Homo sapiens: one gene and its partners. The protein of the gene in region 4 purifies or fractionates together with the protein of the main gene of each other region. This does not show direct contact. Each region holds a gene or a part of one and is shown on either strand. Other genes may lie near its edges.

Region 1 (3,828 bases), on a different chromosome or scaffold from region 4:
TGGGGCTGTCTGGTGATTCTGTAGATCAATTCTGTAGGCCCACTGTCCTGGTCAGTGGCAGACAGCTGCAGGGTGGTGATTTTCTTCACTGAGTTTTCATCCAAGACCAGTCCTTTATTGGTGGTGATGACTGGTGGGGATTTGTCTTCTGAAAATATCAGAAATAGTGATTTGAAATGGGATCTTCTCAGCCTCCTTTCTTTAATTCTAGGCCTGGTGCCAAGAAGTAAGGTCAGAGTCATCTCTAGGCCTGTGTGTTAGAGAGCACACCAAGGAGCCAGGGCTTCGTGCAATAAAGGGGGTATGATTTTCAGTTTCCACACCAGCTAGGTAAAGGGAAGGACTCGAGCCTCGAGGTGAACAAAGTGTAAACTATATAACCTCAGAACTGCTAAAATAGTTTTATATTAGAAAATCAAATGTCTCTTTACCTAGAATGCTGATGGAAAATGACTTGTCAATCAATCTGTTGCCTTCTCCATCAACCACATCAAATTTAAAAGCAAAGCTCCCTCCAGGTTCTCCTGTTCCATGACTATATTCTACGTGGCCTATAAAAAGGAAAAAAAATCAAGATTTGCTATTAGTGCTTTCTGCCCTTATTTCTGAAGCAAGAGGTGTGAATTCAATTGGTGTTCACACCAATGAATCAGTTCACACCTTCCTCGCTTTGACACTGCTTTTGACATTTTAATCTAAAGTTTTCATTTCCTCCTTTTCCTCTCCCACCATCTACTTTCTCATAACCAAAGACCTTCTCATAACAAAATCACCCCAAGTGACATTTCTCATGGTTAAGGCTGAGCCTTTTTGGAAGATCAGCTCAGCCTCTAAGGACACCTCATGAAAACGAGATCCACAAAACTGCCCATGTGTAAATGTGCACTGACCACACCCACATCACCTGGAGTGACCCTATTATATATTGGAATCACAAGGGCAAGAAGACACAGAGCTGCACCTCACATTCTCCCAGAACTCTTCACTTTTCATTGCCCAGTTCACGGAGCAACATGGGCTATAGCCAACCAACAAATAAACTCCACATAGAACTCAAAAGGATCTAAAAGGAGAAGTACAACAAAAATGTATTACATTTTTGTTAACCTACAGCATCACTTAAAAGCATCTTTCAATTTGGTTGTGTAAATATAACCAAATCTCTGGGAAGAGGGGGCTGGTCTTATCTTTTAAAAGTAGACACCGACATATGAAATAATTAAGGAATTACTTTCCTTTTGCCTCTTCCACTCCCCTTCACTAAAGCACAGCCAGTTCCAATGAGAATTCAGCTGTTGTCAATTTTAGGTGTTAGTGTGTGGGCGGGACACTTGTTTTTTATCCGCAGGGGTATATTTCCACTTCTAAACAGAATTGCACATAATCACAAGACTGTGGATTACGTTTTCCCCAATATATAACTTTTTTTCCCTTTTGTATCCCTGAAAGCACTGTACAGTAACTACGTAGCATTTAACATTTATGCCTTTACATTACATCAGCATTTCCTGATGGAGGGATGTGCCATGTAATTTCCCCTAGGCAGCTCCGATTTATGCCCTTCCATTTTGCTTAGTTCATTAACTTGTGCTCTTTGGGGAGCTGAAAAGAGATATAAATTGCTCACCTAAGGAAGGCATAATTTTCACCTTAATCCATCCCAACTCACTTCTTTTTTCCTTCTCTCTCTCTCATATATACTTTTTAGCATCACAGCAAGTCAAAATAACTTTTTCTCTCCAAAATAGCTGCAAATGCCACCAATGCTAAGTCAAAGCATGAACACATTTCAACCAAGAAAGATAGGGCTTTTTTAAAAACAAAAAGAAAAAAAAAATAAGAAAACAAGGAAGAGAACAAATGAAGCTCCTCAAAACAAAGAGTGCACAGTTTATTGCCATAGACTACCAGATATTTAATTCTCATTTTACTAGTGTAGGTGCAGTCCACGGAAGCCTGGTAGGCAGAAGAGAACTGGCTGACCTTGGCTAATGTCTGCCTGGGTGAAACTTCGGATGGGGCCTTTAATAGAAATTTGCTCCAGGTTGCCATGCTTCATCATCTGCAGGCGCCCTGCACCAGGATCTTCCTTCATGATGTACATAACCTGATGGTCATCTGAGTCAATATCTGTCACTTTCAAGTGCTGTTCTGTGATGCGTGCTACAGACCCTTGGAAGAGAACGGAAGAGAGTAGGTTATTCCCCAACATTTCCTTTGAACGGGATGTCAAATGATTTTAGGAGACTGGAGGCTAAATTATCACATATTCATTGGATCTAGGTACCAGGCACTTGCCCTTCTCAGTTTCCAGCTGAATAAATTATAATTTCCCTAGTGAAAGAGTACCGACATTTCAATTTACTAATTTTCCCTTGAGTCAACACCTAAGCACTTTTTTCCTTCTGATCCATTTTCATTCTCTCCTATGCTCCTCCGACTCAGTGACCTACCAGTTAATACCTAGATCTGTGGAATAACTCCCAGTTCTGTGACAAAAATAACTCCTAGATCTATGATGAAACCTGCTTGGATTTAGTTTACTTACTGTCTTGAGAATCACCAAATCAGAAAAATATAGCTTTACATAAACTCAAACATATCTTGTTGCCATGTCAGACAAAGTAGTGAAAATCAGCATCCTTCAGGACAGAGGATGTTAGGAGCAAGGAGATCTGAGCCTCTGGGCCCTGGACACTGCGCAGGTGTTGGGGATGAAGATAAGGCCCTGGCTAATGGCAAACTCCTCTTCTCAGGGTCTTGTCACTTGCTTTATTACCCAGCCGCTTTATCATGTTAAAAATAGTAAATCCCGGTAAAGTAGAGCCTAGTTATTCATGCATAATACATCCTGGTGTTTGGAGTGACATGTTCTTAGTGGGTAATACCAAGAACACAAGACCCTGACCATGCTTTACCCAGGCCGTTTCTCAGAGAGCAACCTTGAGGGATGAGGTAATGTCTTCCTCTCAGACAAAAATAAGACTTGCATTCTGCTGCTGTAACATGGAGAATTCCCCAAGCTCAGTATTCCCCTCTGTGATGCATCCTACTGCACACGAAAGTGTCTGTCTGGGCCCTCTACATCACCCCTATGGGACTGGGATGGCAGAGGGAGCCGATGCAAACCTGCTGATGCCCATGCTGCCTGCTGTGCTATAAGTAACAAGAGTGCCGTATTTCTGATGGAGGAATCTTGTATCTTCTACCAGCATCCATGAAACAGTAACAGGATAGTTTATTAGCTTATAAGTAGGATAAAGTCAAATCTCAGACTTGATATTTAAGACCTTTGAGAACTACCAAGTTTTCCAATACTATTATACCATACATTTTTCACTGCAAAATACACATGAAACTAAGAACAAACAAACAACAGAACTCTAGTAAGATGCAGACACCCTGGGCAAAAGGTCCACTTCTTAATTAAGTAACTTCCTACTGCAAACTGTTCAAGACTCACACTTGTCACAGGTCCTCCAATGTTGCTTAAACATGAGCAAAATTGTGAATGTTAAACCCTAGAATACCATATCTGATAATTCTCAATTATTTGTATAATCACTTTTAATGCATGATGGTTTCCCAGCTTACCCTCCATGCATTTTGTAAAAAAATAAGCGTCTTAAAAATTCTGCTATATTTCGTTATTTGTTTCCATGGGGTTTGTTGAATGGGAGTAATGTTAGAGGAAACCTGGGCCTAGGAGGAGTTGAATAAATTAAGATTTTTGAGGGCCCTGGAAATATTATAAACTCTTCTCAATCTTTTCTCTAATTCACAGACATAAGCATTTGGTCCAAAGAATTTTAGAGGTTCACATTTGTC
Region 2 (3,828 bases), on a different chromosome or scaffold from region 4:
TCAGCCTCTTAGGTTGAAGCGATTCTCCTGCCTCAGCCTTCCCAGTAGTTGGGATTACAGGCTTGCGCCACCACACCTGGCTGATTTTTGTATTTTTAGTAGAGACAGGGTTTCACCATGTTGGCCAGGCTGGTCTTGAACTCCTGACCTCGTGATCCTCCTGCCTCGGCCTCCCAAAGTGCTGGGATTACTGGTGTGAGCCACCACGCCCGGCCTATAAATTGTTTTTGTTTTTTTGAGATGGAGTTTCACTTTTGTTGCTCAAGCTGGAGTACAATGGCGTGGTCTTGGCTCACTGCAACCTCCACCTCCCGGGTTCAAGCGATTCTCCTGCCTCAGCCTCCTGAGTAGCTGGGATTACAGGCATGCGCCACCACGCCTGGCTAATTTTTTGCATTTTTAGTAGAAATGGGGTTTCTCCATGCCAGCCAGGTTGGTTTCTAATTCCTGACCTCAGGTGATCTGCCTGCCTCGGCCTCCCAAAGTGCTGGGATTACAGGTGTAAGCCACCATGCCCAGTCAAAATTGTTTTTTAATTTTTTTTTAAAGACACAGGATCTCGCTCTGTTGCCCAAGCTGCAGTGCAGTGGTGCAATCATAGCTCACTGCAGCCTCGATCTCCTGGGTGTCCTGGGGTCAAGCCTCAAGTGATCCTCCTGAGTAGCTAGGACCATAAGCACGTGCTACCACACCTGGCTAATTTAAAAAAATTTTTTGTAGGCCAGGCATGGTGGCTCATGACTATAATCCCACCATTTTAGGAGGCCGAGTTGGAGGACTGTTTAAGCCCAGGAGTTCAAGGCCAGCTTGAGTAGCACAGTGGGACTCTATCTCTACAAAAAATTTAAAAATTAGCCAGGCGTGGTGGTATGCACCTGTAGTCCCAGCTACTTGGTGGGGCACTGAGGCAGAAGGACTGCTTGAGCCCAGGAGTTCAAGGGTGCAGTGAGCTGTGTTTGTGACACAATACTCCAGCCTGGGTGACAGAGCAAACATGTGTCAAAATAATTTTTTTAAATAGAGATGGGGAGTCTTACTTTGTTGCCCAGTCTGGTCTTGAACTCTTGGCCTCAAGAGATCCTCCTGTCTCGGCCTTCTAAAGTGCTAAGACTATAGGTTATACACTTTTTTCCCCCCGGACACGGTTTCTCTGTTGCCCAGGCTGTCGTGCAGTGGTGGGATCTTGGCTCACTGCAACCTCTGCCTCCCGGGTTCAAGTGATTCTCCTGCCTCAGCCTTCCGAGTAGCTGGGATTATGGGCACCTGCCAGCATGCCCAGCTAATTTTTGTATTTTTAGTAGAGACGGGGTTTCACCATGTTGGCCAGGCTGGTCTTGAACTCCTGACCTCAGGTGATCCACCCACCTCAACCTCCTAAAATGCTGAGATTATAGGTATGAGCCACTGCGCCCAGCCTTAGATTATAAACTTATTTTTTTTTAAATAGCGACAAGGGCTTGCTATGTTGCCCAGGCTGGTTTTGAACTCCTGAACTCAAGCAATCCTCCTCCCTTGGCCTCCCAAAGTGCTGGGATTATAGACATAAGCCACCACACCCAGCCTTAGGTTATAAACTCTTTAAAGCAAAAACAAAGAGAGGGTCGAGGTGGGAAATTATAAAAACCAGTTTAGACATCCACAGAAGTCCAATTAAATAAGGACTGAAAAGCAATCATTGGATTTAGATGTTAGGATCACATTAGTGATAGGAGCAAGAGCAGTTTCAGCGCAGTATGTTGTCATCATAAATGCACAGAATGTTAATCTGTAATATCCTACTGGATTAAGTAGATTATCTGTCTTACCTGTTTTAACTTCAGTTTTACATCTTCAAGGCCACCAATCTCCTCCCAGTCAACAGGCTTGATATCCATTAATCCAATGACGCTTCGAAACGATGAGGGCTGAATATTTTTAAAAGCTTCAAGGAAGTCTATTTCATCAATCACAGGATTGTCCTGGTTCTGAAGAAATACACCCAAAAAAGCAAAATCAAACCAAAAATTAGGTTGGTCTTTTTTTATAGCACAATTTGTTTTTAAAATCTTCTTTTGGATTTGTAAAGTTATTTTGTTATCATTATAAAAACAATTTATATACATAGTACAAAGAATTAAATGTCTCCCTGCCAATTCCTGCCAGTAATTCTTCCCCGAAAGATGTCAAGAGTTTGTGTATTTTTCCAGTATGTTATGCTAGTAAGCATACATATATCCTTTTAAACAGATACACAAATGGAACCATACTATATCAGCCTGTACTTTTCTTCTTTCACCTATCTTAGAGAGCTTTTCATGTCAACTAACACAGTTCTACGTCATTCTTTTTGACAATTCCATAATACACTACTGAATTTACCCCAACTACACCTTTCTGACAAACGTTAGGTCATCCCCAGTCTTTAGATATTAAAAACAAAGCTGCAACTGAAAAAGTCTTTGTGCTCATGTTCAAGTATTTGTTTATTTTGAGACAGGGTCTCACTCTGTTACCCAGGCTGGAATGCAGTGATGTTATCATAGCTCACTGCAGTCTCCCAGGCTCAAGTAATCCTTGCACCTCACCCTCCGGAGTAGCTAGAACTACAGGTATGTGCCACCAGCCTGGCTAATTAAAAAAATATATATATTTTTTTTTTGTAGAGATGCGGTCTCCCTATGTTGCCCAGGCTGGTCTGGAACTCATGGGCTCGAGCGATCCTCCCACCTCAGCCTCCCAAAGTGCTGGGATTACAGGCATGAGCCACCATGTTCAAACTCATGTTCAAGTATTTTATGTAATAATTTCCTCAAAGTAGAATTACTGGGTTTACAAGTACACACATATACAATTTTGACAGCTATTACCAAATTGTCCTCTAAGGAAGCTGCAACAATTTATTCTTCTCCGATAATATGAAGCTGTGTTCTCTCCACACCTCTCCAGTACAGACATTATCAAACTCTTTTTTTTTTTTTTTTTGGCGGGGTCTCACTCTGTCACCCAGGTTGGAGTGCAGTGCTGTGATCTTGGCTCCCTGCAGCCTCCGCCTCCTGGGTTCAAATGATTCTCGTGCCTCAGCCTACCGAGTAGCTGGGATTTATAGGCATGAGCCACCACACCTGACTAATTTTTGTATTTTTAGCAGAGACGGGGTTTCCCCATGTTGGCCAGGCTGGTCTTGAACTCCTGACCTCAACTGACCCACCCATCTCAGCCTCCCAAAGTGCTGGGATTATAGGTGTGAGCCACCGCACGTGGCCCATTTCCAAACTCTTAAATGTCTGCCAATATGACAGGAAGAACCAGTACTCATTCATTACTGTGTTAACTAAATTTCTTCAATTCAAAATGAGGTAGAGGGAATATTGGAATTAAAAAAATCGCCCGTCTTGCAATCATGATAGTAAAGGCTGTTATGAGCAAGAATTGGATGCTATGTTGAGGGGAGTAAAAGTTTATTCATTTATGAGACAGGGTCTTGCTCTGCTGCCCAGGCTGGAGTGCAGTGGCATTGAGGCAACAGCTCATTGAGCCTCGAACACCTGGGCTCAAGTGATCATTCTATCTCAGCCTCCTGAGCAGCTGGGACTACAGGTGTAAGCCACTGTGCCCAGCCTGAAAGTTTGATGAGGAGCAGGATATCTCAAAGTGTCTCCCCACAGATTTCTCATTAGTGGCAAAGGGAAAAATAGCAGTTCCACAGTGGAGAAACTGCGCACTGCCTGAACTAGTTGATAAAAGTTAGCATCACCAATGAGGAACCAATGTACACTCTGTGCCTCTACATGTGAGGCTCTAAGGACACAACACTATACATCACCATACTGTGGTGACATATGGGAACAT
Region 3 (3,828 bases), 450 kb from region 4:
CCCAGTTGAAGGAGGTGTGGGAGGAGCTGGATGGACTGGACCCCAACAGGTTTAACCCCAAGACCTTCTTCATACTGCATGGTAAGGTGGGGAGGGAGTTCCAGAGCCAGGATGAACCCTAGATTCTGACCCTTCTAGGACCTGAATGCTAAGAGGGGTGTGTCTGTCCCAGGAGGGCTTAGTCAGGCCCAAGAGCCAAGCCTATGTCCCCTGGTTGACCAGACAGCCCTGCCTCTCCCGACTACAAGGCTAGGATCTGCATGGAAGGGTTGGGCCTCTTTTCTAGCAAACACCAGACCTCGGGGTTCTAAGGACAGCTGGTGTCCTCTGTAAGCAAACCAGGCTTGGCTAGGCCTGGGCCCTCTGCCCACAGCAGCCCAGGAGAAGCCCTGGTCCACTCTGGGAACCCTGTCGCTAGGAGTGGGTTGTTCCCTAAGAACCAGGCCTCCAGAAGCCTGGAAAACCCTTTCTCTTTTTCTTTTTCCTTTTTTTTTTTTTTTTTGAGATGGAGTCTTGCTCTGTTGCCCAGGCTGGAGTGCAGTGGCATGACCTCGGCTCACTGCAACCCCCTGCCCTCCGCCTCCCGGGTTCAAGTGATTCTCCTGCCTCAGCCTCCCGAGTAGCTGGGATTACAGGCATGCACCACCATGCCCGGCTAACTTTTGTATTTTTAGTAGAGATGGGGTTTCACCATGTTGGCCAGGCTGGTCTCGAACTCCCAACCTCGTGTGATCTGCCCCCTCAGCATCCCAAAGTGCTAGGATTACAGGCGTGAGTCACTGCGCCCGGCCTCGAAAGCCCTTTCTCTATGGTGGATCAAAGGCACACTCCCCTCAGTCTGTCTCTTCCTGTCTGGAAATGTGGCCTGGGGTTGCCAAGCCCCCTCAGGTATGCCAAGCACCCTGTCCCAGAATCTGTAGCCGGTCAGATAAGCTTAGCAAGGCCTGACTCATTCATTCAGCAAACCTTTCCTAAGTTCCCTCTAAGGACCAAGCTTTGTCAAGACCCCGTGGATACAACTGTAAACAAAACAAAGTACCTCCCCCTCAGAGCCAGTGATCAGGCACACAGATCATACCATACTTTAGTAACTCCACGAGACTGTACAGTATGAGAGGTGCTAGCATTTTACGTAAGCTGCCAATTAAATTAACGTACCATTGAAAACAAGATGCGTCCTGGGCTGGGTGTAGTGGCTCATGTCTGTAATCCCAGCACTTTGGTAGGCCAAGGTGGAAGATGGCTTGAGCCCAGGAATTTAAGACCAGCCTGGACAACAAAGTGAGACCCTGTCTCTATTTAAAAAAAAAAAATAGACCAGGCGTGGTGGCTCACGCCTATAATCCCAGCATTTTGGGAGGTTGAGGTGGGAGGATCACCTGAGGTCAGGAGTTCAAGACCAGCCTGGCCAACATGGTGAAACCCCATCTCCACAAAAATACCAAAATTAGCTGGGCATGATCGTGAGTGCCTGTAATCCCAGCTACTCAGGAGGCTGAGGTGGGAGAATCACTTGAACCCGGGAGGCAGAGTTTGCAGTGAGCCAAGATCGTGCCATTGCACTGCAGCCTGGGTGACAGAGCAACACTCCATCTCAAAAAAACAAAGAAAAAAATAAAAATTAAAAGTTAAATAAATAAAGATACATCCCTATTTCAGGGGTGATAAAATAGAAGAACACAAAAGTGCATCTCAGAATCAACGAAGGTTCTAGGCCGGGTGTGGTGGCTCACGCCTGTAATCCCAACACTTTGGGAGGCCTAGGCGGGTGGGTCCCTTGAGGCCAGGAGTTGGAGACCAGCCTGGCCAACATGGCAAAACCCAGTCTCTACTAAAAATACAAAAATTAAAAAACAAAACAAAAATTAGCCAGGCATGGTAGTGCTCACCTATAGTCCCAGCTACTCAGGAGGCTGAGGTAGGAGAATCGCTTGAACCCGGGAGGCGGAAGGCGGGGGTTGCAATGAGCTGAGATCACACCACTGCACTCCAGCCTGGGCAACAGAGTGAGACTCTGTCTCAAAAAGCAATAGAAAGTAAAAAAGAATTAGAAGATTCTGTAATGGGGTCTCAGGTAGTGACGTGTACTACCTCGCAGCCTTGACCACCCAGGTTCAAGTGATCCTCCCCCTCAGCCTCCCAAGTATCTGGGACCACAGGCACGTACCACTATGCCTGGCTAATTTTTTTAATTTTTAGTAAAGGCAAGGTTTTACCATGTTGCCCAGGCTGGTCTCAAACTCCTTTGCTCAAGCGATCCACCTATCTTGGCCTCCCGAAGTGCTGGGGTTACAAGCATGAGCCATCCCACCGGGCACCACCCCCCGTGTTTTGTTTTGTTTTTTTTTTGAGACAGGATCTTGCTATGTTGCCCAGGCTGGAGTCAAACTCCAGGCCTCAAACAATCCTCCTGCCTCAGTCACCTGAGTAGCTGAGACTGCAGGTGTGTGCCACTGCGCCCAGCTTTAAAGATGTTTAATTGTACAGTTCAATAGTATTAAGTATATTTACACTGTCATGCAACCAATTCTGAGAGCTCTTCATCTCGCACAACCGAAACCGTATCCATTAAACCACTCGCCCTCCCCTTCTTTCCCCTGCTCTCTAGCAACCACCATTCTATTTTCTGTCTCTATGATTTTGACTATTTTAGGTACTTCATGCAAGTAGAATCTTTTGGTATTTGTCGTGTGTGTGTGTGTGTGTGTGTGTGTGTTTGGCTTATTTCACTTAGCATAATGGTGAGGAACTGAAGTTTTCATTCTACTGGATATTAATTTCTATTTCAATTGCCCCATGTGGCTAGTGGCTGCTGTACTGGAGTCCCAGCACAGCTCTAGAGAGGACATTTGGGCTGGATGCGGTGGCTCACGCCTGTAATCCCAGCACTTTGGGAGGCCGAGGTGGGTGGATCCCTTGAGTCCAGGAGTTCAAGGCCAGCCTGGGCAACATGGCACAAACCCATCTCTACAAATAAAATACAAAAATTAGCTGGGTGTGGTGGCGTGCATCTGTAGTCCCAGCTCCTTGGGAGGCAGAGGTGGGAGGATCACTTGAGTCCAGGAATTCAAGGCTGCAGTGAGCTATGATCATACCAGTGCCCTCCAGCCTGGGCAACAGAGTGAAACCCTGTCTCTAAAAAATAGAAAATAGGCTGGGCTCAGTGGCTCACGCCTGTAGTCCCAGCACTTTCGGAGGCCAAGGCAGGCAGATCAGGAGCTCAAGAGATCGAGACCATCCTGGCCAACATAGTGAAACCCCGTCTCTACTAAAAATACAAAAATTATCTGGGCATGGTGGCACGCACCTGCAGTCCCAGCTACTCAGGAGGCTGAGGCAGGAGAATCACTTAAACCCTGGAGGTGGAGGTTGCAGTGAGCTGAGATCATGCCACTGCACTCCAGCCTGGCAACAGAGCGAGACTCTGTCTCAAAAATAAATAAACAAATAAATAGGCCCGGCGCAGTGGCTTACCCCTATAATCCCAGCACTTTGCGAAGCCAAGGCGGCTGGATCCCTTGAGACCAGGAGTTCAAGACCAGCCTGGGCAACATGGCAAAACCCCATCTCTATGAAAACAAATACAAAAATTAGCTGGGTGTGGTGGCGTGCATCTGTAGTCCCAGCTACTTGGGAGGCTGAGGTGGGAGGATCACTTGAGCCGAGGAGTTCAAGGCTTCAGTGAGCTACGATCACACCATTGCACTCCAGCCTGGGTGACAGAGTGAGACCCTGTCTCTAAAAAATAAAAAAATAAAAACCTTATTTAATCTTTTTAATCAGGCAGTCCCTACAGACCAGAATAGGTTCAGAGCAACTCCCTATACC
Region 4 (5,339 bases):
AAATTAAGAGAATGTAAAAGTCCAGAGAGAGTAGCAAAATCCCCAAAACTCTCACGGTCCAGATGGTTGCTGGGCCAGGGTGAGGTCTTGTGACCCGGCCCTTCCAGGTGTTCAAAAAATCTGTAGGGACTTCTAGCATAAAAAACAAAGGTCACAACAGGTCAGGTCAGGCTCTTCAGCATCCTCATCCTCCTTGAACTCACTGGGTTACATTTCTTCTGCCTTTTCAGGCTTTGTCTCTATTGTTTTTTCTGCAGGTGCTGGGAGAGTACTTGTTGGCATATGCTGATGGTCATCTGCATGATTGGACTCTTCCATATCTGCTCCAGAAGCTTGAGTGTCTCCACTACAGGAAGAGTCTTTGTCATTACTGGTTTTAGAAAAGCTGTCCTCAGAGCCACCATTTTTCTTGATGCCTTTCACGGTGACAACGGCCAGCACTTGCCCTGAGGACATCTCTTCAGGAAGCTCTGCTACAAGAATGGCGAAGCAATCTTTTTTCTTGGCATCTCATTTTGCCCTGTGAAGAGATAGGGCTGCTTCTGGGGACTTTTCACTGATCACCATCCCCGCCAGGTCATCCTTGAAATCATTTACCTGGACTCCCTAGGGTGCCTTCACATTACATGGGGCCTCCTTTTCCTTGATGTTGTTGGCAAATTCTTTCACTGGATTATCTATGGGAACTTTTTCCTTGGCACATTTGTCGGCATTCAGATCCAGTGGAGCATCCTCATGTGAGCTTTCGTTGGTGAGGTCTTCCACCAGGGTATCCTCCATGGGAACTTTTTCCTTGGCTCATTTGTCAGCCTTTAAATTTAGCAAAACATCCCCATCTGAGCTTTTGTTGGCAAGGTCTTCCACCAGGGTATCCTCCGTGGGAACTTTTCCTTGGTGAATTCATCAGCCTTCAATCCAGTAGAGCGTCCTCATCTGAGCTTTCATTGGCAAGGTCTTTCACCAGGGTATCCTCTGTGGGAACTTTTTCTTTCATGCGTTTGTCAACCTTCAAGTCCAGTGAGGCATCCTTATCTGAGCTTTCGTTTCCAAGGTCTTCCACCAGGGTATCCTCCATGGGAACTTTTTCCTTGGCACGTTCTTTGGCCTTCAAATCCAGTGGGGTGTCCTAATCTGAAATTTCATTGGCGAGGTCTTCCAGAGGATCCTCCATGGCACCTTTTTCCTTGGCACATTCATTGGCCTTCCAAAGCCATGGGGCATTTTCATCTGAGCTTTCACTGGCTTGGTATCCTTCCAGGATATCTTCCATGTGAACACTTGCCTGAGTTGCTGAGTCTGTCAAGTGAACAGCAAGAACCTGTTCAGAGGAAGTGTCGCTGGTCTGCTCCCCTGCCAGGTTGTCCTTGAAATCTTCAGATGGCTACCTGCCAGGGTGCACATGAGGATGACACCTGCGGTGGCACATTCTCTCTCTAAAACTGCGCTGGCAGACCATGGATTCGCCATGGACAGTGGAGTCTCCTGAAACCTGAGTATCCACTGCTGCATCTTGGAGGCAATACTCTAGCCTTCACGAGCACCCTTCTACTCCAGTCAGGCTGAAGTCTCCCTCGCTGTCACCGCCACAACTGTAGGAGGTGAGCCACAGAGCCGTGCCATCTGCAAGCTCCAAACTCCACCTCACCACAGGTGACTCCTCCTTCACTTTCTCCTCCAGCCTTTCTCAGAGTGGCTGGGCGGGCAAAGCCAGAAAAGCCACTCTGGCCACACTGCAGCCTCTGTTGCCACCACCAACTGCAGTGAGGCAAGCCATGGTGCCACAGGCTCCAACCTCCAGCATGTGGCAGGTGATTCCCCTTCCCCTTCTCCTGGTTCTCTAAGCCAGGAACAGAGTAGCTCGGTGGGCAGATACAGAAGAGCCTAAAATCTGTTGTACTATTTTAAGAAAAACTTCTCTTGCCTGTAATCCCAGCACTTTGGGAGGCCGAGGTGGGTGGATCACCCAAAGTCAGGAATTCAAGACCAGCCTGGCCAACATAGCAAAACCTCATCGCTACTAAAAATACAAAAAACAAAAAACAAACAAAAAAAAATTAGCTGGATATTGTAGTGCGTGCCTGTTATCCCTGCTCTTTGGGAGGCTGAGGCAGGAGAATCACTTGAACCTGTGTTAGAATCAAAATGCTTGTTTCTTGGTGTCGCAAGGAAAAATTAGCATTCAGACAAAAAGTTTTCTCAGCAAGGCAATTTTACTTTCTGTAGAAAGGGTGCTGCCCATCAGCAATCCTGCCAGGAGAGCACAATGAACAAAGAAAGGCAGGAATATTTATCCCTTATGCATTGGGTCCTTACTGCTGTGTCCTGTCTCCATTGGTTGGAGCTGGACCTCACAGTCTAAGCTAAACCCAATTGGCTAACAACTTAAAAAACTTTCTTAAATAGGTAAAGGCAATGGAGAACAAAGGAAAAGAGGAAGTTGCTTGCCAAAAGACTTGGAGAAGTAATAACATTTCCAAATAAGGAAAGGGCATAAGCTGTGAGCTGGGACATGCTTGAGCACGTCGAGACCAAATATCTTGGTTAACGTACAAGGACACAGAAGGTACTTATTTCCTTATATCTAACAACTACATAAGATATGGTTTAAAAAAGAGTTACTAACACAAAGCAAAGAGGCTTAAAAAAAGTTAATTAAAAATATTATTTCTAACACTTGTGATTTATTATTTAATAAAAACTTTAAAGAGAAACTTTTTTACTTTCCACAACCTAGAAGGTGGAGGTTGCTGTGAGCCAAGATGGCACCACTACACTCCAGTCTGGGTGACAGAGGGAGACTCCATTTCCAAAATAATAAAGTATGTTTTTTAAAAAAAACTTTTCTGTAGTCTTGAAATTTTATTTATTTATTTATTTATTTATTTTTTGAGACAGAGTCTCACTCTGTTGCCCAGGCTAGAGTGCAGTGGCATGATCTGGGCCCACTTTAGACTCAACCTCCTCGTCTCAAACAATCCTCCCACCTCAGGCTTCTGGGTAGCTGGAACCACAGCACACACCACCACACCTGGCTACTTTTTTGATTTTTTTTTTTTTTTTGGAGACAGAGTCTCACTCTGTCCCCCAGGCTGGAGTGCAGTGACATGATCTTGGCTCACTGCAACCTCTGCCTCCCGGGTTCAAACAATTCTTTTACCTCAGCCTCCAGAGTAGCTGGGACTACAGGTGCAGGCTGCCATGCCCGGCTAATTTTTCGTATTTTAGTAGAGACAGGGTTTCACCGTGTTGCCCAGGCTGGTCTCGAACTCCTGAGCTCAGGCAATCTGCCTGCCTTGGCCTCCCAAATTGCTAGGATTACAGGCGTAAGCCAGCATGCCTGGCCTACTTTTTAAATTTTTTTGTAGAGATGAAGACTCCCTCTATTGCCCAGGGTGATCTCAAACTCGTGGGCTCAAGTCATCCTCCTGCCTCAGCCTCCCAAATTGCTAGGATTATAGGTGTAAGCCACTGTGCCTGTCCTGAAATTTTTAAAATAAAATTTTAAATAAACATTTTTAAAATGAAGATATTGCATGGGTGTACGTGGGTATCATATGGATGTATCAAGCTCTTTGGGTTTCTTAAAACTTTTCAGGATTAAAAATACCCTGATTTTGCAAAGCACTTCATAATTAGAATCACTTGTAGAAGTTTACCAAAGGTGGCCTGGCCAGGCATGGTGGCTCACGCCTATAATCCCAGCACCTTGGGAGGCCAAGGCAGTTGGATCACCTGAGGTCAGGAGTTCAAGAGCAGTCTGGCCAACATGATGAAACCTTGTCTCTCTAAAAATAGAAAAATTAGTCAGGTGTGGTGGCAGTCACCTGTAATCCCAGCTACACAGGAGGCTGAGGCAGGAGAATCACTTGAACCTGGGAGATGGAGGTTGCAGTGAGCTGAGATCGCACCATTGCACTCCAGCCTGGGGGACGAGCGAGACTTCGTCTCCAAAAAAAAAAAAAAAAAAGTTTACCAAAGGTGAAATACACAACGCATTTAGCATTCATACAGCTCTTTGGTATTAAAAATCACATTTTGGGCCAGGCGCAGTAGCTCATGCCTATAATCCCAGCACTTTGGGAGGCCGAGGCAGGTGGATCAGCTGAGGTCAGGAGTTCGAGACCAGCCTGGCCAACATGGCCAACATGGCGAAACCCTGTCTACACTAAAAATTCAAAAATTAGCTGGACGTGGTGGCACGTACTTGTAGTCCCATCTACTTGGGAGGCTAGGGCTGGAGAATCACTTGAACCTCAGTGGCGGAGGTTGCAGTGAGCTGAGATTGTGCCATTGCACTCTAGCCTGGGCAACAGAGCGAAACTCCATCTCAAAAAAAACAAAAAAAGAAGAAGAAAATCACATTTTGGGCCAGGTGTGGTGGCTCATGTCTATAATCCTAGTACTTTGGGAGGCAGAGGCGGGCGGATTGCCTGAGCTCAGGAGTTCGAGACCAGCCTGGGAAACATGGCGAAACCCCGTCTCTACTAAAAATAGAAAAATTAGCTGGGTGTGGTGGTCCGCGCCTGTAGTTCCAGCTATTCCGGAGGCTGAGGTGGGAGGATCATTTGAGTCTGGGAGTTGGAGGTTGCAGTGAGCTGAGATTGTGCCACTGTACTCCAGCCTGGATAACAGAGCAAGACTCCATTCTCAAAAAAAAAAACCAAAAAAACAAACAAAAAAAACCCCAAAAATCAAAACCACAATAACAACAAAAACATTTTGGAGTTTATAATGGAGAGGTTTACCAACCACTTTGGGATAGATTGAAAAATACTCTGAAGTTTGCAGAGCACTTACTTTGAGACAAAAACACAATTTGGGGTTTATGAGGGTGAAGCTTTCCAAGCACTTAGAATTAAAAACCCTTCTTGGTTTATAAAACATTTTGGTGCTCATAGAAACACTTTGATTGACTATTATGTAGTTAAAAAAAAAAAAGAAAACCACTTTGATACAAAACCCTCTAGGGTCTACTAAACCCTTGCAGATGTATTCTGAGGTCAAAAATCTCATTTCTGACAGTTGGATTGCCCCACTTGAGAGATGGCAAAACTGAGGCTCAGAAGGAGGAAGTTCCACACAGAGGAGTAAGAGGGTCAGTTCCTCTTCTTGTCCTCCTAAACTACAGAAAATGTTAGGGCCTCACCAGGCATGGTGGCTCATGCCTGTAATCCCAGCACTTTGGAAGGCCAAGATGGGCAGATCACTTGAGGTCAGGAGTTCAAGACCAGCCTGACCAACATGGAGAAACCCTGTCTCTACTAAAAAAATACAAAAAATTAGCCGGGCGTGGTGGCAGGTGCCTGTAATCCCAGCTACCAAGGAGCTTGAGGCAGGAG

What was found.
Region 1: the proteins of DKKL1 (region 4) and FRAS1 purify together in Homo sapiens (co-immunoprecipitation; 3 studies listed by BioGRID and IntAct, with this or other methods). This does not show direct contact.
Region 2: the proteins of DKKL1 (region 4) and AFG2B purify together in Homo sapiens (affinity purification with mass spectrometry; 2 studies listed by BioGRID and IntAct, with this or other methods). This does not show direct contact.
Region 3: the proteins of DKKL1 (region 4) and NUCB1 purify together in Homo sapiens (co-immunoprecipitation; 3 studies listed by BioGRID and IntAct, with this or other methods). This does not show direct contact.

Annotation. Positions count from the first base shown.
Region 1 is NC_000004.12:78,448,495-78,452,322, reverse strand, and holds part of FRAS1 (extracellular matrix organizing protein FRAS1 isoform 1 precursor), read right to left. Parts: intron 2,173-3,828; coding exon 1,984-2,172; intron 552-1,983; coding exon 432-551; intron 149-431; coding exon 1-148. UniProt on the Homo sapiens protein: Involved in extracellular matrix organization. Required for the regulation of epidermal-basement membrane adhesion responsible for proper organogenesis during embryonic development. Involved in brain organization and function.
Region 2 is NC_000015.10:45,408,508-45,412,335, reverse strand, and holds part of AFG2B (ATPase family gene 2 protein homolog B), read right to left. Parts: intron 1,965-3,828; coding exon 1,806-1,964; intron 1-1,805. UniProt on the Homo sapiens protein: ATP-dependent chaperone part of the 55LCC heterohexameric ATPase complex which is chromatin-associated and promotes replisome proteostasis to maintain replication fork progression and genome stability.
Region 3 is NC_000019.10:48,913,484-48,917,311, forward strand, and holds part of NUCB1 (nucleobindin-1 precursor), read left to right. Parts: coding exon 1-81; intron 82-3,828. UniProt on the Homo sapiens protein: Major calcium-binding protein of the Golgi which may have a role in calcium homeostasis. Acts as a non-receptor guanine nucleotide exchange factor which binds to and activates alpha subunits of guanine nucleotide-binding proteins (G proteins).
Region 4 is NC_000019.10:49,366,035-49,371,373, reverse strand, and holds part of DKKL1 (dickkopf-like protein 1 isoform 1 precursor), read right to left. Parts: intron 2,670-5,339; exon of another isoform or gene 231-2,669; intron 1-230. UniProt on the Homo sapiens protein: Involved in fertilization by facilitating sperm penetration of the zona pellucida. May promote spermatocyte apoptosis, thereby limiting sperm production. In adults, may reduce testosterone synthesis in Leydig cells.